Regions from separate parts of the Homo sapiens genome. Here region 1 is linked to region 2. The links come from fine-mapping of genetic effects on gene expression. A gene starts in region 2. The other region holds a variant in brackets. All regions are shown on one strand. Distances are between the middles of the regions. Region 1 overlaps BOC (BOC cell adhesion associated, oncogene regulated). Region 2 holds the start of BOC (BOC cell adhesion associated, oncogene regulated).

Region 1 (5,372 bases), 35 kb after region 2:
TTTTTTCTCCCCTATTTGACATCAGAGTGTTCTGGGTAGATGTTCCAGATATTAGTCTAGAACTGTGCTGTCTAATGTGGCAACCACTAGCTCTGTATGGTTATTTAAGTTAAATTTAAAGAAAATTAAAACTTCAGTGTCTTAGTCACATTAGCCACATTTTGAGAACTTCATAGCCCTGAGTGGCTAGTAGCTATCTAGTGCTTTAGACAGCACAAATATAGAATATTTCCATCATTGCAGAAAATTCTACGGAAGGGGCTTATGCAATGAACAGTAGGAGATTTTTATAGATTAGAATGTATGATGAAAGGATAAAAATGATCACACAGAAAGTTACTGTTATAGATAATGATCCAGGTAACATTATTCTTATGTATAAGGAAGTAAATTCAGAAACATTCTAAAATTGGCTTTGAAACCGTTTCTAGCCAGTTGATTAAAGTGGCTCCAGAAACAATTTGCTAGGAGGTAGTGTTAAGATAGTAAAAGGAGCACTGGACTAGGAGTGAGAAGACCTGACTTGTAGCCCAAAGTCTCCCTTCTGAATTAGCTGGGAGACCTTCTACAAATCACTTAGACTCATTCAGCCTTGACACATTATTCATAACACTCAAAACACATTAGGCATTACTCTACGATACTTGTTTATTTTCTCTGAGGTCCCTCCGAATTAAAAAAAATTTTAATTAAAAAAATTTTTTAAATTAGGTCTGTGTGTCAAATACAACTTTTTAAGTAAAAATGACCTTTGTTTTTTGTATATATTTAAAGGTATACAACCTGATGTTTTGATAAGCTTTCTTTCTCTTTTTTTAGAGACAGAGTCTTGCTCTGTTGCCCAGGCTGGAATGCAGTGCAGTGCCTGTCATAGCTCACTACAACCTCAAATTCCTGGGCTGAAGTGATCCTCCTACCTCAGCCTCCTCAGTAAACCTTTCTTTCTTAATTCCTTCTCCTAAGTCTATCTAAACTCACATATTCAGCCCTCTGAAAATTAAATTCACTTATTTCCCCAATATTTGCTTCAATGCCTCTCTTCTGTGCAGGAGTACTACCCTCTTTCTTGAGATAGGGGGCTGCCAACACTTGCACCCCAGACACTTGGCATCACCTTCTAGGAGCAAAGCTTTCCCTGCCTTTAAGACAATTGGGAAAGGTGATTCTTACTCTAGAAAACTGGGAGCATGCAAAATGAAAAGTAACTTGGAGCAGGATTTTTTTCTTTTTCATGTAGCTAGTCCCTCTCTACCAATGGAACAAAAGACTTTGTCAGATCGTATTCTTGCCACTTGAAGAATGTTTTTAAGAAAGTCTCTTTGTGCTATCTGCTACATCACACTCTCTCCTATTCAGCTCACCTTTGTTATTGGTCTTAGGACATCCAAAGGGCATGTTTTGTGTTTTAGATCATAGAAGCTTCCCTTTCTGACAGCTGCCGTGGCATGGGCGTCCAGGGGATGAGCCGACGGCTTTTTGTGGTGTTCTCACTCTTGATCCAGTTAGTCAGCCAGCCCTCTTGGGAGGAAGTGGAGCTGGCCTCCTCCTGATGATGATCGACTCTCAGTTGTTTGTAATTTTCTCAAAAAATAAATACTCTGAGGCTACAGTTTCTCAGGATTGGTCTTAACCCCAGAGTGTGTTTTGTTGTTGTTGTTTTTGGAAAGTTTCAAAAACATCTGTTTGGAAGAGATTATTTCAGTGGAGAACATGTGTGTCAGCAGTTAAATGTTTCAGACCCATTTTCTTTCTTTTTTTGTGTGTGTCCAAATAACCCTTTAAACTGTCAAGTACCTAGGCCTCAATGAGGTGTCAAATGATTTTGATATTTTTTTCTTGATTTCTCTGCTTTGTCTCAGAAAATGACTAAGGAAAATAAGAAGGATCTTAGATATATTTTGCATTGCCAAGAAAAATAATAGGCCTTACTGTTGCCTTCACCCAACTTTGAAATTGTACTTTGTTCATTTCACAATGGGACAACGTTACACTGCAATTAGGTTCTCCAGCTTAAGCGTTACTTGCCTTTTTTCCCGAAACATTAAAATAAAGTTCTCAGGTAACTGAAATCTCTAGAATTATCTTTCTAAACCAAACTCACTAGGTAACTTGGTTCAAAAAGTAACTCACTTTCCCCAGATACTAAATAAAATGCATCATTTTATGTATTTATAATTTTATTTATTTATTTATAATCATCATCCAGTGACCAAGCCCCCCAACCTTCCCCAAACATAGCCATATTTTTTGGTCATAGTTCTGCTTTTACATGAATGAGACCCCACGCATCCTGTTTTGGGGTCCTTAAAATGGTACTTCTTACAACTGTGTTGTGGGGCTTAATGGGTTAACTCCTTTCTCCCTCTCTGGATACCTGCACCTTCTCACTCCCTCTCACTCCCAATTCTTTTCTCCTTGTTGTTTTTGAAAGCAGGATGGTGGCTGGCAGCAGCAACAGGATCTGTTTCCATTTTGAACCTTATAAATTACCGAGGGTGCAGAAGTAACAGGAATTGTTTGGCTGGTCCTCGTTAAGCAGGAGAGGGTCTGGGCTGAATTTCCTCAGTAAAATATTTGTTGCTGTTACAACCCAACACCTCCGTAGCCACCGTGTGTTCAGATAAGAAACAACCCTTCCATTCCTCTTTGTCTGCTTGTCCTCTTTTGCCCTTCATTACTTTATGTTCATTTTCTGTCTCCCTACCTCCCTTCTTCCCTTTCTTCCTCCCTCCCTTCCTTCCCTTCTTGGGGCATGGAAGGAACATTTGCTTTCAATTTCCTTAAGGGCCTGGGGAAATTGGGGCATGACTTGAACAAGCTAGTTCCCTAAAATCCCATAACTGGGAACTCATGCAATGATCTATATAAATACCTTATCTCATTGGGGAAAAGCAAATTAGAGAATTAAAGCAAGTATCTGGAAAATTGAGAGGAAACCAAAAGCTTACTTTTTGGTGTAAACTTTCCCTCTAGAAATCACTGTTAAAATGTCCCACTGTTCTACATCAACTCTGTTTGCTAAACACCCACTGGTTTCAGAGCCCTGATAGGAAAAAAAAAAAAAAAAAGGGAAAAAGGCTACTATTGTGATTAAAAAGCACAGAGTTTGGGAATCAGCC[T/C]AAACTGGGTTTCAATCCAGGCCTACTGTTATGTGATCCTGGGCAACTTCACTTCTGGAACTCAATTTTCTCTCCTGTAAAATGGGGATATAGTCGTCACCTTGCAGGGTTGATGAGAAGGTTAAAGGAAATACATTGTGTAAGAGCTTAGCGAGTTCCTGGAGTAGTGGCAGGCACCCCCAGCTTTCCACCACCACAGCCCCTCCCAATTGTACTCACATCCTTTGCAGCTTTCATGAATTTTACTTTGCCAATAATATGACCCTTTGATTTACTGGATTGTTTGAAAAAGAGCAAAAGCTCTCTCTCTACACCAACGGGAAATTATCTTAACTTGCCAGGAAATAACTTTTGAAAAACTTCTTTAAAAATGTTCTTTCAAATCCCTTTTAGAAAACATCCCCTTGTCCTATCCCAGAGTAGTGCTGAAGTCTTGTGAGTCCTCTGATGTCAAAGTCATGAGGCAAAGGGAGAAAATACAAACCATCGGGAAAGAACTCTTGGAAAACATTCTGAGCATCCACAGAATGCTAGGGGCTGGGGTCCTCCATCTGGTTTGGAGGGGTGCTCATTGGGCAGTGTGGATATGGCCCTCCTCACTCCCTCTGCAGCCAGGCAGAAAGCCAAAGGACCACAGGTCTTGGGGAAGGGAAAGGTTTAGGTTAATCCGAAGCACTTCCCAACACAGCAACAGTCCCCTGTGTCAGGCAAGTCGGGTGTCTCCTGTTTCTTACGGCAGTCTCTGCAGGCAGCCTGAACTCTAGGACTGGCCAGCACAACACATCTCTCAGTTGAGAAGCTTAACTACTTCTGAGTTTTAAATGGTGACTGTAAATCTTCGAGAGAGTCTCTGGTTAGGTAGATTGATCTAGAAGAGTTAACATTTTGAATGTATGTCACACTCCTAGAAATATACTATTAATATTGCCACAGGTGAATGATCCACCGTGCAGATCACTGGAATGTTGCCTTCAACGTTATCCGAACTCATTTCAATGCCTCCCTGCCTAATAAGGCTGTTGATACCCCATCCTTATTTGTTAATGTTCTATAAACCCATCAGTGAAAAGCACAGAAGCAAAATCTTTGTTTTGGCTGTGACAGAAGTGTGTGTGTGTGTTAGAATATACACTTGCCCATGTGATTTTGATAAATCTTGTAAGGACCATAGCTTAAGAAAGGCATAAAAAATTGTGCCTTCTGGAACAGGAGATGCTACTGTTCTAGGCAGAGAGGGTGACTGATAGCTGAGGTGTGTTGTCAGATGGCTGGAGGTGCAGTGTGGTCTGAGCCTCAAAGCAATGTTGTTCTGGGTGGAGATACAACTTGGGTAATCAAGAGTGTAGATTTTGTAGAGACGGAAAAGTTCAAAATTTTCTAGCACCGGGAGCAGAGAGAAGTGGGAGCTAGTGAGTGAAGCGAAAACAAGGCTCTGTGCCCTGAGAAAGTGAGGGGTCTTGGCTGGCTTATGACTTTGGGCTGTGTTTGTACCTGTGGGAGTAGATGTTATGGACAAGCTGAGGAGAGCAGGGTGATTGCAGGAATAAAAGGGAGTTTTCAGGGATCTAGGCATAGAGCTGGGGTGAGGAAAATCAGAGCAGGAAATATTTCATGAGTCACTGAGATGCTAGGATTCATTCACTTAGTAGCATTCCCTGCAAGGGCGTTCTGTATGCATCACACACACGGCACTGCTGTCCCACAATAGTCTGCACTAACCACATGGCAGGGCACATGGCTGTGACCAGCTGGCCTTTTGCAAGCAAATGGTAAGAATAATCTCATCTGTTCTAGCATCTGTGCCAGATAGTCACTGTCCTGTGCCATGGATATGGCTGCAGGCCTCAGCCTCTCTGTATCCTCTGCCCCTCCTCCTCGTTGCTGTCCATCCACTGGGCAAGACTCCAGCATTCTTACTACAATAAAATCACCTTCTAGCTAGAGAAAGAGCCCTAGGGGGCAACTTATAAGAAGCTTCTTTTAGATGAGAAATGGCACTATAGTGTTCTTTGGTCTTCCAGCAGCATGACCGGGTCTCTAGTTTGAATGTTGCCAACAGGGAACAAGGGACAAAGCCAAGCCCTGTGGCCACCACAGGTGCACCCCAGGCATCCTCATCATGGCCATTGCTCTCCCTTTCTCTCTTACAACAGAGTGTTGCCAGGGACGGCAGTATCTCTTTGTGTGACCCTGGCGGCTTATGGGACGTTGGCTTCAGACCTTTGTGATACACCATGCTGCGTGGGACGATGA
Region 2 (5,372 bases):
TGAAAAACAGAAGGCTGGATACGCTGCTTGGGTCCCTGGGGAGAAGGAGTGTTATCACTGCAGAGGAAGCTGGTTGACCCATTCCCTTGGGGGAATTAAAAGTTCTGTACCCAGGGTGGACCCCAGGCCTTGTAGTCCAGAATTGTGCCTTGGAAGGAGGACAAAAGAAAGTGGAAGCTAATATAGTCAATGACTGGAAAGAAAAATAGGTCTTTGAGAATGTTGGGGGAGATTGTTAGAGATTAAAAGGGAAGGAAAATTAGGATGATTAAGTAGGAAAAGGAAATGTAGGTGGATAATGCACAGAGAGAGTTCAGAGTCCTTTTCACCTTCTTGCTGAAAATGCATCATCCTCCAGATCCATTTTGCCAGAGGAACATGCCTAAGAATCCAGGCACAGAGCTGAAAGTACTCGATAAATCAAAAAGGAAATTGGCTTCTGCCTGAATGACTAAATACCGGAGAAAAAATAGTGCAAAATATGGAATAAAATACATTTATGTTTCCTTTGTAAAGGTCTTTTGGTTCAGATTCAATTAGAGTCCTATACTCAGTGTAAAGTATGTATGTTTACTGACAAGAAACAAGTTAATAAAAAACAAAACAGGGCCGGGTGAGGTGGCTCACGCCTGTAATTTTAGCACTTTGGGAGGCCAAGGTGGGCAGATCACTTGAGGCTAGGTGTTCAAGACCAGCCTGGACAACATGGTGAAACTCCGTCTCTACTAAAAATACAAAAATTAGCCGCGCATGGTGGCAGGTGCTTGTAATCCCAGCTGCTTGGGAGGCTGACACTGGAGAATCTCTCGAATTCAGGAGGCAGACTTTGCAGTGAGCCGAGATTGCACCACTACACTCTAGCCTGGGCGACAGAGTGAGACTCTGTCAAAAAACAAACAAACAAACAAACACACACACACACACACACACACACACACACACACACACACACACACACAAAACCCCCAGAGGCCCAGAAAAGTTAAGTGACTTTCCAAAGTCACAGTGGCTTCCTGACTCCCAGTGCAGCTGTCCAGCCACACAGGGAAGGCAGCACCCCCATTCACCCTACTACTAGCCTGGCTGTCTTATTTCCAGGACAGCTTCCTCACCAGCTTGGCACAAACTCCCAGTTCACTTTAAACAAATGGCTTAGCCCTGCTGGGACTTGGTTTTCTCAGCTGCAATGAAGATACGGAATGGATGACCGCTCACAACCTGTGCTTCATTCCTAAAAAATAAGAAGGGAATCCAATTTGCCACCAACTCAACATTTGCCTTCTCACTGCCCTGGAAAGGTAGTTTTTAAAACGTGGCCCCTGACCTGCAGCATCAGCATCACCTGGGAACCTATTTGAAATGCAAATTCCCAGGTCCACCTACTGAATCAGAAACTCTGGAGGTGGGGCCCAGCAAAGGGATTTAGCAAGCCTTCCAGGGAGTCCTGCTGCAGATCAAGTTTGAGAACCACAGCTCTGAAAGTTTTCTGACCAACACACACGCGCGCGTGCGCGTACACATACACACGCATAGGTAACTAACTTTTCCGTGGCCACTAGCACCCCCAACCCATGCCCCCAACCCCAGCCCCAGCTCTCCCTCCCCATTCCTCCCTGGCTCCATCCTGGGATGATGAATGGAGGTCAGGGCGCTGTCAATGGACGACGCGGCAAACCCTCCCCAACCGACCGAGGGGGTCGGGGGAGGCTGCGTTAAGGCTTCCCTGAGATTGGTTTCCTTATCATTTTCTCCACCGCCGCTGTCCCATTTTCTGATGAGTTTGCTTTTAATGATTTATCCAACAGTTTGTCTTGCAGAAGAAGAAGACCATTGAGAGGTGGGTGTCAGGAAAGTCTTGGAAGAGACTAGGCGAAAGGAGGGAAGGATTGTACATGGAAGAGCAAGGGTGCGAGGTGAAGCTAAAGAGAAAGTGAAGGCTTCAGGGGAGCCCCCTGGGTTCGGGGAAAAGGGAGAAGATGGTGCTTTTGGTATGGGAAAGCAAAAGAAGTTGGAGGAGAGCGCGGGTCTGAGGCACAGCAAAAAGTGGGTGTTAACGGGAAAACTGCCCTAGAGTTTGGGGGACTTTTTCCAGCTTCCTTTCCAAGACTTTTTCTTTGCTCCATTTTGCTCCTCCCCCTCCTCCCAGCCTCCTCCACTCCCTCCTCCTCCTCCTCCTCGCACGGTAATGGGAGGCTCCTAGGCAGGAGAAGCAAAAGAAGGAATTGTTTGCGAGTTCAGTCATCCAAAAAGCTTCTTCCATATGGAGGGACCGGGTGCGCTGGGCGCGGCGTCCCCTGCGTTGTCCTCCTGCTGCCGCCCCCGCGGCCGCCGCTTTCTGCCGCGGGGACCCTGAGCCCCGGCCCGCCGGTGTCAGCCGCCGCGCGCGCGCACAGACACACACACAGAGACACACAAACACACACAGAAAAGACACACACGCGCACACACGGCGCGCACACCCTCACGCCCGCCACAGCCACAACACGCCCGCACGCGCCCTCCCTCTCCGGCCCGCAACTTCTCGGTCCTCGGCTCCTTTGTTGCTCCAGCCGCGGCCGCTCGCCCGTGTTGTGTGTCCCCGGTGTCACCGAGCGTGTTGTGTGTCCGTGCGGCGCGGCGCTGTGTGGCTCCCTCGCGCCCACCACGCTGGCCCCCGGGCCCCGGCTCGCCCTTCCCAGGCGCCGGCTGCAGCAGAGGTGAGTCACGTCGCTGAAGTTTGTTTTCTTTTCATAAAAAGTTGTGTTTACTGTTGGTTCGGGGAGAGGAGGGGGCGGGAGGCGGCCGCAGGCCGAGGCAGCGCCAGCGAGTGGCTGCCGGGGGACGTGCCGGCGGCGGGAGCCGGGTCCCAGCGCTCGGCCGGGCGCCCGGGGCTGGGAGCTGCGGCCGAGGCTGGGCGCGCCGGGCGCCGGGCGAAGAAGTTGGGGCGAGGCGGGCAGCGGGGGTCCCGGGGGCTGCAGCCGCTACGGGGCCCAGGGGCGCCGCATCTCGTTCCCTGCCGCAGCGGTCTGGCCGGGCGATGGTGGTTTCGCCTCAGCGGTTCCCAGAAGCTTCTCGGGTGGAAGAAGGATCCAGCCAGCCTCCCAAACTTCCACCGAAGGTTGACACCAGCGCCCCGGCCCCATGCTCCAGGCCGTGGGGGGAACCCGAGGCGTGGCGGCAAATGCGTAGAGTCACTCAACACGCACTCGGCCTCTTTGGAGGGTGAGGGTTTCTCATAGTTGGCGTCTTCTAAAGGAAAAACACTAAAATGAGGAACTCAGCGGACCGGGAGCGACGCAGCTTGAGGGAAGCATCCCTAGCTGTTGGCGCAGAGGGGCGAGGCTGAAGCCGAGTGGCCCGAGGTGTCTGAGGGGCTGGGGCAAAGGTGAAAGAGGTGTGTGTGTGTGTGAGAGAGAGAGTTCGTGTGTGCGTGTACGTGTGTGCGCGCGCGTGTGTGCGTGTTCGCGCCAGCAGCGTCCTCCTGGGGTTTTTGTTGATGTAACTGTGAGAAGGTGTGGGAAATGAATCTCTGGAACCAGTGGGACGGGGCTGTGGGGAGGGCAGGGAACCCAGGAAGAATTTTCATGGGGGTGTTGAAGGGCCTGCTTGACTTTCAGGATGTTCAGTATTAATTTGCTTTTCCAGGTGATGGGAGAATGCTGAGGGATGAGAGAGGCAGGCAGACCTGAAGGAGTTAATGGAGCCTCGGGGATTTGTTTGGCAGAGTTTTGTTTTGGGGATGGGGGTGGCAGTGCCAGAGTTGCTTGGAACAGAGTTGTGCTCCTCCAGAGATGTGGCAGTAGAGCTAAGAATACCGAAACCACACACCAGCAATCCCAAACTGGCACTTTTTGGGTGTGGTGGGGTGTTCTGCTGCTCCCCTCATCCCTTCTCTGCAAGTTCAAATGGGTTCGCCTAAGTTTTTGACCCAGAGTTACCTCTTTGAGTGGACTGAGTGAAGATTATATTTTGATTTCAGGCCCTTGTGCCACCTGCAGATGCACTGTGCCCAGCACACATTTGTCACCTAGTTCTTTGTTGTCCAGAACTCGGTACACATTGACCATTGGATGAATGTCATTTTAAAACTTCAGTGTGCAGACATTTCTGATTTATTCCACGACTGGGTCTTAAACAGGCAGCCCAGCTCTGTGATGGTTTTTTTCATCCCTTTGGTTACAGCCAATAAATCAATCTTCGTTTTCTTAAGGGCAGCATGGAAAATATTAAACCACAGTCTTGGGCTGCTTGTGGGGGCTAGGATGCCCATACATCTGGGTGACCTGTTTTCTGAACTTAAAGTAAATCTGAGGCAAGAGGTTAGCCATTTTGAGGTGTGTAACAGGTTTCCCAGAAACATTTCTGAGGTCTTATAATTGGTACTTTTTAATGGTCTCATAATTGAGACCCAGAAGCTTCTCGTGGTGATCTGAAAGCACCTTGGGGTCAGTGGGACAGAGGCCGGGCAGAAACAGCAGTAGAGTTATTATTTTCCTGCTATGAGTTTTTCAAATGAGTTTATGCAAAGAGGTAAAATGAAAGAAAGAAGAGTTGCCTCATTGGGCCACTTTGCTGACACTGTCCTCCCCTGTATAGATTTGTCACTCAGAATTTGGGCCTTGAGGAGGCTGGAGGGTGTCTACACATTTATGAAGCCTGAGGATTGAGACCTCAGACACTGTCTCTTTTATCCTCTATCGAGATACTTCAGAAATGCTTCACTGCAAGAGACATTCGCTAGGGAGCAGTTGTCCCCCACGCCATAGGCCACTGGCTTTACTTGGGAAAAGAGGTTGCTAGAAGCCAGAATGGTTGATTCTTTGACTACAACTGGAGAGGGAGGGTGTGGGGAAAAAATAGAGAGGACTCTGCTTAGCTGTTAATTGGTGAGCCAACTCTTGGTAAGCTGTGTGATTTATGTTCCTTTCCACCCTCCAAATGGGTCCAGAGATTTTCCCTTTTTTTGAAGTGCTTTTTCAAGTGTTTGGGATCCCGGCTCTCTTCAACAACATGGTTTCCATGCCCTAAGAATGAATAAGAGATTTTACCCATGAAATAATTCAGTTGACTTTCACATGGACCCCCCACGGTTTGAAAAAGGAGAGCAAGAAGTGAGCCTGATGTGTCATAGTGTTCCGTGTCCCCTAGGGGGTCTGGGTTCAAATTTCGGCAAAGCCACTGATGTGGGTAATGAATTAGGGTTTATCTCTGTGTCTTTCAAACTACAACAGAAAACTCAGGTGCACCAAATAATTGCTATCCAATACCTTGTGGCCTCTGAATAAGAAAATATTAACTTGGCACCAAAAGATATTATATATTTGGAAGTTGCTTTCTTTCCTCCAAACTCTAAGCCCTCTTGCTGTCTGGGAAAATATGGGACAGGAGAAAAG

The links.
Region 1: its variant is fine-mapped to the expression of BOC in tibial artery (GTEx, PIP 0.98).

Annotation. Positions count from the first base shown.
Region 1 is chr3:113,244,450-113,249,821 of GRCh38, forward strand. BOC (BOC cell adhesion associated, oncogene regulated) reads left to right here. Exons shown (of 20, transcript NM_001378074.1): 3 at 5,273-5,372. The coding sequence starts at 5,354. Among named protein-coding and RNA genes, the nearest start is that of BOC, 36 kb to the left of the region's middle. The variant T/C (reference allele first, on the strand shown) is at 3,120.
Region 2 is chr3:113,209,321-113,214,692 of GRCh38, forward strand. BOC (BOC cell adhesion associated, oncogene regulated) reads left to right here and starts at 2,237. Exons shown (of 20, transcript NM_001378074.1): 1 at 2,237-2,696. It overlaps LOC124909486, which reads right to left. Exons shown (of 2, transcript XM_047449436.1): 2 at 1-2,960. The coding sequence ends at 2,235. RefSeq lists an enhancer at 2,598-3,249.